Homo sapiens: one gene and its partners. The protein of the gene in region 3 purifies or fractionates together with the protein of the main gene of each other region. This does not show direct contact. Each region holds a gene or a part of one and is shown on either strand. Other genes may lie near its edges. The genes, in order: MCCC1, LONP1 and GCAT.

The links.
Region 1: the proteins of GCAT (region 3) and MCCC1 purify together in Homo sapiens (affinity purification with mass spectrometry; 3 studies listed by BioGRID and IntAct, with this or other methods). This does not show direct contact.
Region 2: the proteins of GCAT (region 3) and LONP1 purify together in Homo sapiens (affinity purification with mass spectrometry; 3 studies listed by BioGRID and IntAct, with this or other methods). This does not show direct contact.

The regions. Positions count from the first base shown.
Region 1 is NC_000003.12:183,097,455-183,101,201, reverse strand, and holds the start of MCCC1 (methylcrotonoyl-CoA carboxylase subunit alpha, mitochondrial isoform 1 precursor), read left to right. Parts: upstream 1-1,705; 5' UTR 1,706-1,761; coding exon 1,762-1,850; intron 1,851-1,958; exon of another isoform or gene 1,959-2,714; intron 2,715-3,747.
Region 2 is NC_000019.10:5,713,429-5,717,175, forward strand, and holds part of LONP1 (lon protease homolog, mitochondrial isoform 1 precursor), read right to left. Parts: intron 844-3,747; coding exon 755-843; intron 1-754. UniProt on the Homo sapiens protein: ATP-dependent serine protease that mediates the selective degradation of misfolded, unassembled or oxidatively damaged polypeptides as well as certain short-lived regulatory proteins in the mitochondrial matrix.
Region 3 is NC_000022.11:37,810,799-37,814,545, reverse strand, and holds part of GCAT (2-amino-3-ketobutyrate coenzyme A ligase, mitochondrial isoform 2 precursor), read right to left. Parts: intron 1,660-3,747; coding exon 1,558-1,659; intron 1,270-1,557; coding exon of another isoform or gene 1,084-1,269; coding exon 937-1,083; intron 1-936. UniProt on the Homo sapiens protein: Pyridoxal phosphate (PLP) dependent enzyme, which catalyzes the cleavage of 2-amino-3-oxobutanoate to glycine and acetyl-CoA.

The DNA of each region.
Region 1 (3,747 bases), on a different chromosome or scaffold from region 3:
GCACAGGAGCCCATGGAGTGGGTGGGAGGTTCAGGCATGGCGGGCTGCAGGTCCCGAGCCCTGCCCCGTGGGAAGGCAGCCAAGGCCCGGCGAGAAATCGAGCGCAGCGCCGGTGGGCCAGCACTGCTGGGGGACTCAGTACACCCTCCGCAGCCACTGGCCCGGGTGCTAAGTCCCCCATTGCCCGGGGTCAGCAGGGCTGGCTGGCTGTTCCGAGTGCGGGGCCCACCAAGCCCACGCCCACCCGGAACTCCAGCTGGCCCGCAAGTGCCGCACACAGCCCCAGTTCCCGCTCGTGTCTCTCCCTCCACACCTCCCTGCAAGCTGAGGGAGTGGGCTCCGGCCTTGGCCAGCCCAGAAAGGGGCTCCCACAGTGCAGTGGGGGACTGAAGGGCTCCTCAAATGCCACCAAAGTGGGAGCCCAGGCAGGGGAGGTGCCGAGAGCAAGCGAGGGTTCTGAGGACTGCCAGCACGCTGTCACATCTCAATGGGGGGTTACAAGACATGAGCCACAGCACCCAGCGTAGTTAATATTTTATTTAGAATTTTTCCACTGATACTTACATGTGAAATTGGTCTGTCGTGTGTGTGTGCGTGATATCTTTGTTGATTTTGGTATCAAAGTTATGTTTACTTTTTAAAAAGAGTTTGGAAGACTTCCATCTTTTTTGTGCTCTGGGACAGAATTAATAGCATTTGAGTCAATTACTCATTTGTGTGGAATTTTCTTGCAAGACATGGAGGGCTTTTGTAACTTTTAGGGGTGAAGGTGAAGGTGAAAGTGGGCCATGGTGGTAGCAAGGATAGTTCTTTGATAAACTTCTCTATTTTTTCTGTGGTAACGGTTTGCTTAAATTTTGTCTCTTCCAGGATCTATTTTGATAAATTGTATTTTCTTGTAACATCATCCATTTCATCCAGAGTTTTAAGTTCACTTGAAGTTAAGCAAAATTAGCATCTTACAAATCTATAATTTGTTTCCTGTGTCTGTGATTTTCCCCTGCTTGTTTTTTAAATCATGTCAAATGTGCATTTTTCTCTATTTCTGATTAGATAACTATTTTATTTTTTGTGAACCTGTGGGTTTATTAGTCCTTTGACACTGGTTTCCTGAATTCATTTATTTATTCCTTTATCTTCCCTAATTTCTCCCTCCTGCTTTCCTCATGAAGCATCTACATGTAGTGTTTACAGTTTCTTTATTCTCTAGATGTTCCTCAGTTTGCTCTTTGACTTCCTCTTTTTCCCAATAGTCAGTTAGAATACCTGTTTTAAGCTCAGGTGGTTTAAAGATTTTCACTTTAGCTTATTTATTTTTTCATCCCTGAGAGCACTAGAGAATTGTGTATCCTGCTGTCCATCCGCATTTGGCTTCTTCCCCAGGGTTCTTCTCCCAGAAGGTGACGAGAGCGAAGAAACCCCACGGGATGCAGGAAGAAACAGTGACAGGCAACCAAGAGGGGGAGGATGGAGAAAACCCTTGCCTTAGTCAGAGCAGGCCCCAGGGGACGCAGAAACAAAGGCCACACCCCCACGAGCACGTGGCCAGACTGCCCAATCGTCGCTACTGAAGCCGGGCTCTGGTCTTTGATTGGTGTTCGTGGAGACGCCCTCACATTCTTGGATCAGCCCAAAGGTAGGCTCAGGCTCCGACGGTGGCCGGCGGGGGTCACGAGGCTTCGTAGTGGAGGAACGGGTTTGGCGTGTGGGACGCAGCTGCCTCTGTACTGGGGAGTCACGGAGTGGCCGGGCTCCAGGGACATGGCGGCGGCCTCTGCGGTGTCGGTGCTGCTGGTGGCGGCGGAGAGGAACCGGTGGCATCGTCTCCCGAGCCTGCTCCTGCCGCCGAGGTGGGTGGAGGGGCCATGGCTCAGTGGGCAGAGGCGGGAGCGAGGGGTGCACGGACCCGCGTGAGCGGTGGGAGGTGCGGCGGAACCCAGGGTCGGTGTGGGGAGGACGGTAGGAAAACCCCAGGCACTTTCGGAGGGGTTCTGCCGGCAGTCACGGCGTCGGGAGGAAGACATCCCCACCAGCCCTTCCCTTTCTCCCCGCTTCCGCACATCCACGCTTCAGCGCGCCTTTGGCTTCTGTTTTTCCATTTCTGAGGACTGGGCCCGCCATCCTCCAGGCTCCCCTCGCCGTCGCTGCAGCTCGTAGCCGTTTACATCGGGCTTTCGCAGCACCCCTTAGGTGGGAGCGTTGTTATAATCCGGTTCCGGGGAAGCCCAAAGGGATCAACGACTTCCTCAACGAAACACAGCTAGTAAGAAATGGGGCCGGGATGCCCTCAAAGCCATTTTTCAGTTCAGCTGTGCCCCATCAGGTGTCCAGTTCAGAGAAAGACTCCTGGAGTTCCTTCTCATTGTTAGAAGAGTGAAGTTGTCAAGAAGAGCAAATGTACCTTCCACAGAGCTGGGAAATTATTTTGTCAAAAACTCTTGTACCCAAGTTTGAACAACGCTATCAGATGACTCAGTCTAGCTCACCTGACTCCAGCTCTGTTTCAAATTTTGAGCTCTAAGCTTTGGTGGCAATAACTCTGGCAGTGAAAAAACCCTCAGGCTTGTAGATAGCTTTGCTTCTTTGTCTTCTTTTGCTTCATCGTTATCATCCTTCATCATTCTGGAAAGATTGACAGTTTAGTGTTCAAGGGCACAGACTCTGCAGTCAAGGCTGAGGTCTTAGTTAGCTACTCACTAGGTGTGTGACTTTGGGTAAGTTACTTAATATTTCTTCTTTAATTTCCTCACCTTGGAGATGATACGAGTACCTTGGGTTGTGAAAACTAAATGAATTAATTCATGGAATGAGGTTTAAGCACAATCTGGTACATAAGATCAGTCTATAAATGCAAACTCAACCATTTATATGAACGTTTGCTTGCTTTTATTTTCCAGAAATATTGTAGATGCCCTTTTTAGTTACTTAATTGTAGGAGTGCCCCAGAGAAACATAAGAAAGTTGTTGGAAGTTGGCGGGGCGCGGTAGCTCACGCCTGTAATCGCAGCACTTTGGGACGCCGAGGCGGGCAGATCACGAGGTCAGGAGATCGAGACCAACCTGGATAACACGGTGAAACCCCGTCTGTACTAAAAAATACAAAAAATTTAGCCGGGCGTGGTGACACGCGCCTATAGTCCCGCCTGTTAGTCCCAGCTACTCGGGAGGCTGAGGCAGGAGAATGGTGTGAACCCAGGAGGCGGAGCTTGCAGTGAGCTAAGATCACGCCACTGCACTCCAGCCTGGGCGACAGAGTAAGACTCCGTCTCAAATAAAAAATAAAAAAATAAAAAAAAAAGTTGGTGTAAGTAATGTTAATGTTCTTCTTGTTCTTCTGGTTTTTCTTTTCTTAGGCCTCCAGGGCTCTTCAGGATAGTACCATAGACCCATTTCCTGTCTTCCCTTTCAAAGCTTAGCTATTGTCTAAAGAACTATCCTCAAGTATGTCACTCTGGAGAGTGTTAGAGTTGTTAATGGCTTATAGAAGTAAAACTCTTTGCCAGGAGACTTGGTTCATGCCTGTATTTTCAGCAGTTTCTCAGCACTGTGGGATCCAAGGTGGGAGGATTGCTTGAGTTCAAGAGTTCAAGACCAGCCTGGGCAACACAGTGAGGCTTCATCTCTACAAAACATTAAAAAATTAGCCAGGCGTAGTGGCACACACTTGTAGTCACAGCTACTTGGGAGGATGAGGAGGGCGAGGACGGCCTGAGTCCAGGGGTTCCAGGCCGTAGTGAGCCATGATCA
Region 2 (3,747 bases), on a different chromosome or scaffold from region 3:
GGCCAGGGCTGCCCCAGTGGTCACAGGACCGGGTGGGTGGCTCCTCGCTAAGTCAGCCACAAAGACATGGTCCAGGTGGGACTTTGATGAGTCTCTTCTATGCTATCACAGAGCCTGCTTCGAATGCATGCATGGAACTCTTTTTTTCTTGAGATGGAGTTTCGCTCTTGTTGCCCAGGCTGGAGAGCAATGGTGTAATCTCAGCTCACTGCAACCTCCACTTACTAGGTTCAACCGATTCTCCTTCCTCAGCCTCCTGAGTAGCTGGGATTACAGGTACCTGCCACCACGCCTGGCTAATGTTTTGTATTTTTAGTAAAGACGAGGTTTCATCATGTCAGCCAGACTGCTTTGGAACTCCTGACCTCAGGTGATCCACATGCCTCAGCCTCCCAAAGTGCTGGGATTACAGGTGTGCGACCCCACGCCCGGCCCATGGAACTCATTTCTACATGGAGCCACATCTCCGAGCAGCTAGCTCGACTTTCAGGTAGCCTCATGGAGCATTTCATCACTAAGAGTCCCTGAAGTTAATTTCCCCCGTATCTTAACAATGCATGAAGTTTAGTACTACAAGCTGAGTTCTCAGCCCAGGCTGAAAAGGTAGCCTGCGTGGCTTCTGGCCTTTATTCTGGAGGTCTTCCCTGGTTTCCTCGGGGTCAGGGGTCAAAGGTGCAAAGTACAGAGTAGGACTTGTGGTGAGCTGGACTCTAGGGCACCGTCAACAAGGGAATGAAGGAAAAATCACACTTACCTGTCATCTCTCTTTAGAAAGACGCCGACATAAGGCTGGGCGAGACGAACTTTCCTTCTCAGCAGCTCAACCAACTTCTTATTTTTAACCTAGCATGACAATGACCCCAAAGTGAAATGCAGAGTAGATTTTTTTTTTGAGACAGAGTCTCATTCTGTTGCCCTGGCTGGAATGTAATGGCGTGATCTCAGCTCACTGCAACCTCCACCCCCACTGAGTTCAAGGGATTCTCCTGCCTCAGCCTCCTGAGTAGCTGGGATTACAGGCATGCACCACCACACCTGGCTAATTTTTTTATTTTTAGTAGAGATGGGGTTTCACCATATTGGCCAGGTTGGTCTCGAACTCCTGACCTCAGGTGATCCACCCACCTCAGCCTCCCAAAATGCCGGGATTATAGGCGTGAGCCACCAAACGCAGCACAGGGTAGCTTTTCTTTTTTTTTTTTTTTTCTGAGACGGAGTCTCGCTCTGTCACCCAGGCTGGAGTGCAGTGGCATGATCTCAGCTCACTGCAACCTCCGCCTCCCGGGATCAAGCAATTCTCTGCCTCAGCCTCCTGAGTAGCTGGGATTACAGGCGCCCGCCACCAGGTCCGGCTGATTGTTTTGTATTTTTAGTAGAGATGGGGTTTCACCATCTTGGCCAGGATGGTCTTTAACTCCTGACCTCGTGATCCACCCACCTCAGCCTCCCAAAGTGCTGGGATTATAGGCGTAAACTACCACGCCCGGCCTCCCAGGGTAGCTTTTGTAGCTGACATTTTTTGACAGCAGAGCCGCTCTAACGCTGTGTAGATTATTCTCTGGGGACATGCTGATCCGCATCCTGGATACTAATCAACATGGTTTGGGAACGCCTAAACAAAAAAAAAAAAAAAAAAAAAAAAGTGCTGGAGGCCAGGAGGCTGTGGTGGTGAATACAGTGAGCAGAACTGACCAGCTGGATTCTTCTTAGCGGTTTCCCCACTCCCAAAGGAAATTCAAAGTAGACGAATGGTCAGAACCCAGAAATTGATTTAACATCCAGCTTCAAAGGGGATGTCCAGGGCAAACTGTCTTGGTTTGAAAATCAAAACCATTCTGCTTTTATTAATGTCAGAATAAACATAAGTAATTTAAATGTGACCCACTCCAGAGATTGATAACTTCCTTTTTTTTTTTTTTTTAATAAAGTTTCAGGCTGGGCGCGGTGGCTCACGCCTGTAATCCCAGCACTTTGGGAGGCCGAGGCGGGCAGATCACAAGGTCAGGAGATCGAGACCATCCTGGCTAACACGGTGAAACCCCGTCTCTACTAAAAATACAAAAATTAGCCGGGCGTGGTGGCGGGCACCTGTAGTCCCAGCTACTCGGGAGGCTGAGGCAGGAGAATGGCGTGAACCCGGGAGGCGGAGCATGCAGTGAGCCAAGATCACGCCACTGCACTCCAGCCTGGGCGACAGAGTGAGACTCTGTCTCATAAAAAAAAAAAAAAAAAAAAAAAAAAAAAAAAAAAAGAAAGTTTCACTCTGCCACCCAGGCTGGAGTGCACTGGTGCAATCTCGGCTCACTGCAACCTCCACCTCCCAGGTTCAAGCGATTCTTCCAACTCATCCTACCACATAGCTGGGGTTACAAGCACACGCCACTGCACTCGCTAATTTTTGTATTATTAGTAGAGACGGAGTTTCGCCATGAGCCACCATGCCTGGTTCCTCCAATTTTCATTGACAGTTACTTCCTTATCACATCATATGCTGTTCATTAATGATCAAGACCCCCAGGATCACAGCACATTCTCAACGGCAGGTTCAGGGCTAATGATGTCTTCTAAGAAGCATTTGAAGGCGCAAGGAGCTCACCTGATTTCTTTCAAGCCTTTGTTAATTCACTGGACAGACCCTGATTAAAGGTAATGGCCTGGCTAGCCTGGTAATGGTAGCTCATGCCTGTAATCCCAGCACTTTGCGGGGCTGAGGTGGGAGGATCGCTTGAGCCCAGGAGTTTGAGACCAGCCTGGGTAACACAGTGAGACCCCATCTCTATTTTCTTTTTGAAGTTTTTAATTCTTTATTATATAATAAAGTTAAAATATACATATATATATATATATATATATATATATATATATATATATAGTAATGGCCCTCAAACTTTTGCAGGCACCAGGATGACCTGAAGGACTTTAAGCAGCTCACTGCTGGGCCCCACCCTTGGAGTTTTTGATTCAGTTCTAGGGTGGGTCCAAAAATCTGCATTTCAAACAAAAGAGCATCACATGATGCCGATGCTGCTGGTCCACAACCATCCTTTGAGAGCCAGTGTTTTGACTCACTCCCTAACACAGGCTCTTAACTTGTGGTCCAGAAATTCCTGACACTATAGATACATAATTTTTTTTTTTTCTGTTCCCAGAAAAAAAAAAGTCAGTAACATCTGACAGGAGGGTGTGTGACCCACTGTTATAAGTAAAATGTTTGTTTAGAGACAGAACGCTTGTACCTCTGTACTGTAAGGAAAAATTAGCATTTGGACAAAAAGTTTTCTTAGCAAGACAATTTTACTTTCTGAAGAAAGGGTGCTCCTCGCAGATGGAACAATGGCGAGAGCAGAGCACACCTGAACAAAGGAGGGAAGCAATTTTTTTTTAAGACAGAGTCTTGCTCTGTCGCCCAGGCTAGAGCGCAGTGGAGCGATCTCAGCTCACTGCAAGCTCCGCCTCCTGGGTTCACACCATTCTCCTGCCTCAGCCTCCCGAGTAGCTGGGACTACGGGCGCCCACCACCACTCCAGGCTAATTTTTTTGTATTTTTAGTAGAGACGGGGTTTCACCTTGTTAGCCAGTATGGTCTCGATCTCCTGACCTCGTGATCCGCCCACCTCAGCCTCCCAAAGTGCTGGGATTGCAGGCGTGAGCCACCGCGCCCAGCCCACGAAGTTAGTTTTTAAAAGAAACTAATACTTCTAACACTTATGATTTATTCTTTAATACCCACCAAAAATTAAGAGCCAT
Region 3 (3,747 bases):
CATGCCTGTAATCCCAACACTTTGGGAGGCTGAGACAGGTAGATCACCTGAGGTCAGGAGTTCGAAACCAGCCTGGCCAACATGGCTAAACCCCATCTCTACTAAAAATAGAAAATTAGCTGAGCACGGTGGTGTGTGCCTGTAATCCCAGCTACTCCAGAGGCTGAGGCAGGAGAATCAATTGAACCTGGGAGGCAGAGGTTTCAGTGAGCTGAGATCACGCCATTGCACTCCAGCCTGGGCAAAAAGAGTGAAATTCCATCTAAAAAACAAATAAATAAAAAACTGGGTGTGGTGGGCACCGGTAGTCCCAGCTACTCAGGAGACTGAGGTGGGAGGATCGCTCGAGTCCAGAAGATTGAGGCTGCAGTGAGCTATGACTGCACCATTGCAATACAGCCTGGGCAACAGAGTGAGACTGTCACACATACACAGGGAAAAACCTCAAGGCACCATGGCACAATGGAATAATGCTCTGGTGCCAGGCACAGTGGCTCACGTCTATAATCCCAGCACTTTGGGAGGCCTAGGTGGGTGAAATCAACTGAGGTCAGGAGTTCGAGACCAGCCTGGACAACATGATGAAACCCCGTCTTTACTAAAAATACAAAAATTAGCCAGGTGGGGTGGCGGATGCCTGTAATCCCAGCTACTTGGGAGGCTGAGGCAGGAGAATCACTTGAACCCAGGAGGTGGAGGTTGCAGTGAGCCGAGATCACACCACTATACTCCAGCCTTGGCGACAGAGTGAAACTCTGTCTCAGGGAAAAAAAAAAAAGAATAATGCTCTGGGTGTGAGGGATCTGGGTTCACATCTTGGACAAATCTCTGCTGTTTCAAACTTTCAGGCTATCTCTGTGAGTGAGGAGTTGGCCTCTCTAAGCCTCACTTCCTTCCCCAGGCGGAGGCTGAGGGTGGACCCAGGCGTCGCCCCACCTGGGCCTCCTGCAGCTTGGCTTCTAGGTCGGCCATGTCCAGGTGGCGATAGCGGTACTTGTGGGCCTTGCACAGCCGGATGCCGTCGATGATGGAGGCATGGTTCAGCTCGTCCGACAGGACTGCGTCCTCTGGGGTCAGCAGGGCCTGGAGGGAGGCAGTGAGCGTAGAGCCATCATTTAACCACCCTGGGCTTCTCCCTTGACCGGGACTCCAGCAAATCAAAAAACTGTACTGCCAGCCAGGGCGCTCCTCTGGGTAGAGAGGCAAGGTGTTCTGTGCTTCTCTCTGGGGCCCCCGTGTCTCAGTGCCGGGCTGGACCAGCGCCCTGCTCTAGTAAGAGGAGGTGAGAATATATTTGGTGAGTACCAGGCCCCCGCCTCCCCCAGCCTTCCAGCTGATGTAGCTTATCCCCCAAAGGCTCTGGAACTCAGGCTCCCTGCAAGCCCCAGGATTCCTCCTGGAGCACCTACCTGGCCCAACCTTGACCTCCAGAAGCGGGCTCTGGAGCCTCTAGGCATGGCACTGAATCCTGCTAGGTTCTCCCGACTGCCCACACCCAAGCCTTCCTCAGCCTAACAGGCCCCACCAACCCTCACCCGCAGGACAGCTTCCACACACCTCAAAGAGGCCGGCGTTGGCGTCATAACAGCTGGGATAGAGGATGGCATCCTCCCGCTGGTGGAAGCGGGCTATTTTTGCTTCTAGATTCTTGTGGATGCTCTGAAGAAAATGAGTGAGACACGTGTTGATGCCTGTGGGGTCATGTGGGACAAGTTCGAGGGGACAGAGGCTTGGAGGACCACAGAGACCCAACCCAGAAAGCCTGCAGCCTCAGTCTCCTTACTTTCTGCCACACATGGGCTATCCCAGAGCTGCCAGGAATCTGACAGACAGTTCCCACTGAGGAACTGGGGACCTGTTAGGTTCCCTCCCTGGGCAGACTTTGGTTTTACAGTGGCAGTCTAATGGTGGAATTACGGGCACTCGTGGAGAAGAAAGATGTGTCTTCCTAACACCATACTGAGTGTCTTTTTTGGTCGCCTAATGGTGAAGAAAAAGATCACAGAGGTAATTCTGGGTTCACCTGGGCCTCTAATTTGTAAATTTGAAAACTGTTGGGTCTGGGTGAGGGCTTTGCTGGGAAGTGACTGGATGCGAGTCAGGAGTTCTGCCTCTGACATTCATTTCACTCTCACCTTTCTGAGAGGGCAGTTAATGATAATCACAAGTAGTCAGGAGCACAGACTCTTTCTTTTTTTTGGCAAATGAGACAGGGATTCTCTGTCACTCAGGCTGGAGTGCAGTAGTGAGACCATAGCTTACTGTAGCCTTGAACTCCTGGGCTCAAGTGATCCTCCCAACTCAGCCTCCCCTCCCTAGTAGCTGGGACTACAGGTGCGCACCACCACACCCAGCTAATTAAAAACATTTTTTTTTTTTTAGAGAGAGGGTCTTGCTATGTTGCCCAGGCTGGTCTCAAACTCCAGGCATCAAGTGATCCTTCTGCTTTGGGCTCCAAAAGTATTGGGATTACAGGTGTGAACTACCATGCCCAGCCAGCATGGACTCTTGAGCCAGGGTTCAAATCCCACAACAGGCTGTGTGCCTCTGGGCAAGTCACTTAACCTCTCTGGATCTCAGTGTCCTCATCTCAATAGCGGGAATAAGAATAGCAACTATCACTTAGGATTAATGAGTTAATACTTGTAATGTTCTTTTTTTTTTTTTTTTGAGACAGAGTTTCCCTCTGTCACCCAGGCTGGAGTGTGGTCGCACCGTCGTGGCTCACTGCAACCCCTGCCTCATGGGTTCAAGCGAGCCCGGCCAGCTAATTTTTGTATTTTTAGCACAGACAGGGTTTCACCATGTTGGCCAGGCTGGTCTTGAACTCAGTAATCCACCCACCTCGGCCTCCCAAAGTGCCTGGATTACAGGCATAAGCCACCACGCCTGGCCAATAGTTGTAATTTTCTTAAAAGAATTCCTGGCACATAATAAGTACTATTTAAGTTTCATACTTATATAAATTTATTTTGTAACATTTGGAAAATAAATAATAGCCAACATTCATTGAGCAGTACTATGTGCCAGGCTGTTCTATGCTTTTTTTTTTTTTTTTTTTTTTTGAGACAGAGTCTCACTCTGTTGCTCAGGCTGGAGTGCAGTGGCGTGATCTCAGCTCACTGCAACCTCCACCTCCTAGGTTCAAGCGATTCTCCTGCCTCAGCCTCCCAAGTGGCTGCGATTACAGGCACCCACCATCATGCCAGCTAATTTTTATATTTTTGTAGAGAAAGGGTTTCGCCATGTTGGCCAGGCTGGTCTTGAACTCCTGACCTCAGGTGATCCGCCTGCATCAGCCTCCCAAAGTGCTGGGATTACAGGCATGAGCCACTGCGCCCGGCCTATTCTAAGCATTACATGTATTAAGTCTTTAATTTGTAATGATCCTATTAAGTGCTATTATCTTCATTTTCCCTATGAAGTAATTGAGACAGAGAAAAGTTAAGATACTTGCCCACAGGAACAGGGACACTAAAGGGCAGCACTGGCAACTGTGCTCCCGTCAGAACAGCCCCAGAGCCCTTAGTCTCAGTTCCTGCCGCCTACTCCTCTTTTCTTATAGAAGGTCAGGTGTGAGGGACTCTGTTTTGCAGGTGGGAAAATGAATGCTCAAAAAGGCAGTTTCCACTTTGGAAGGCCAAGGTGGAGGAGATCACTTGAGGCCAGGAGTTCAAGACCAGCCTGGCCAACATGGTGAAACCCCATCTCTACTAAACATATAAAAATTAGGCCGAGTGCGGTGGC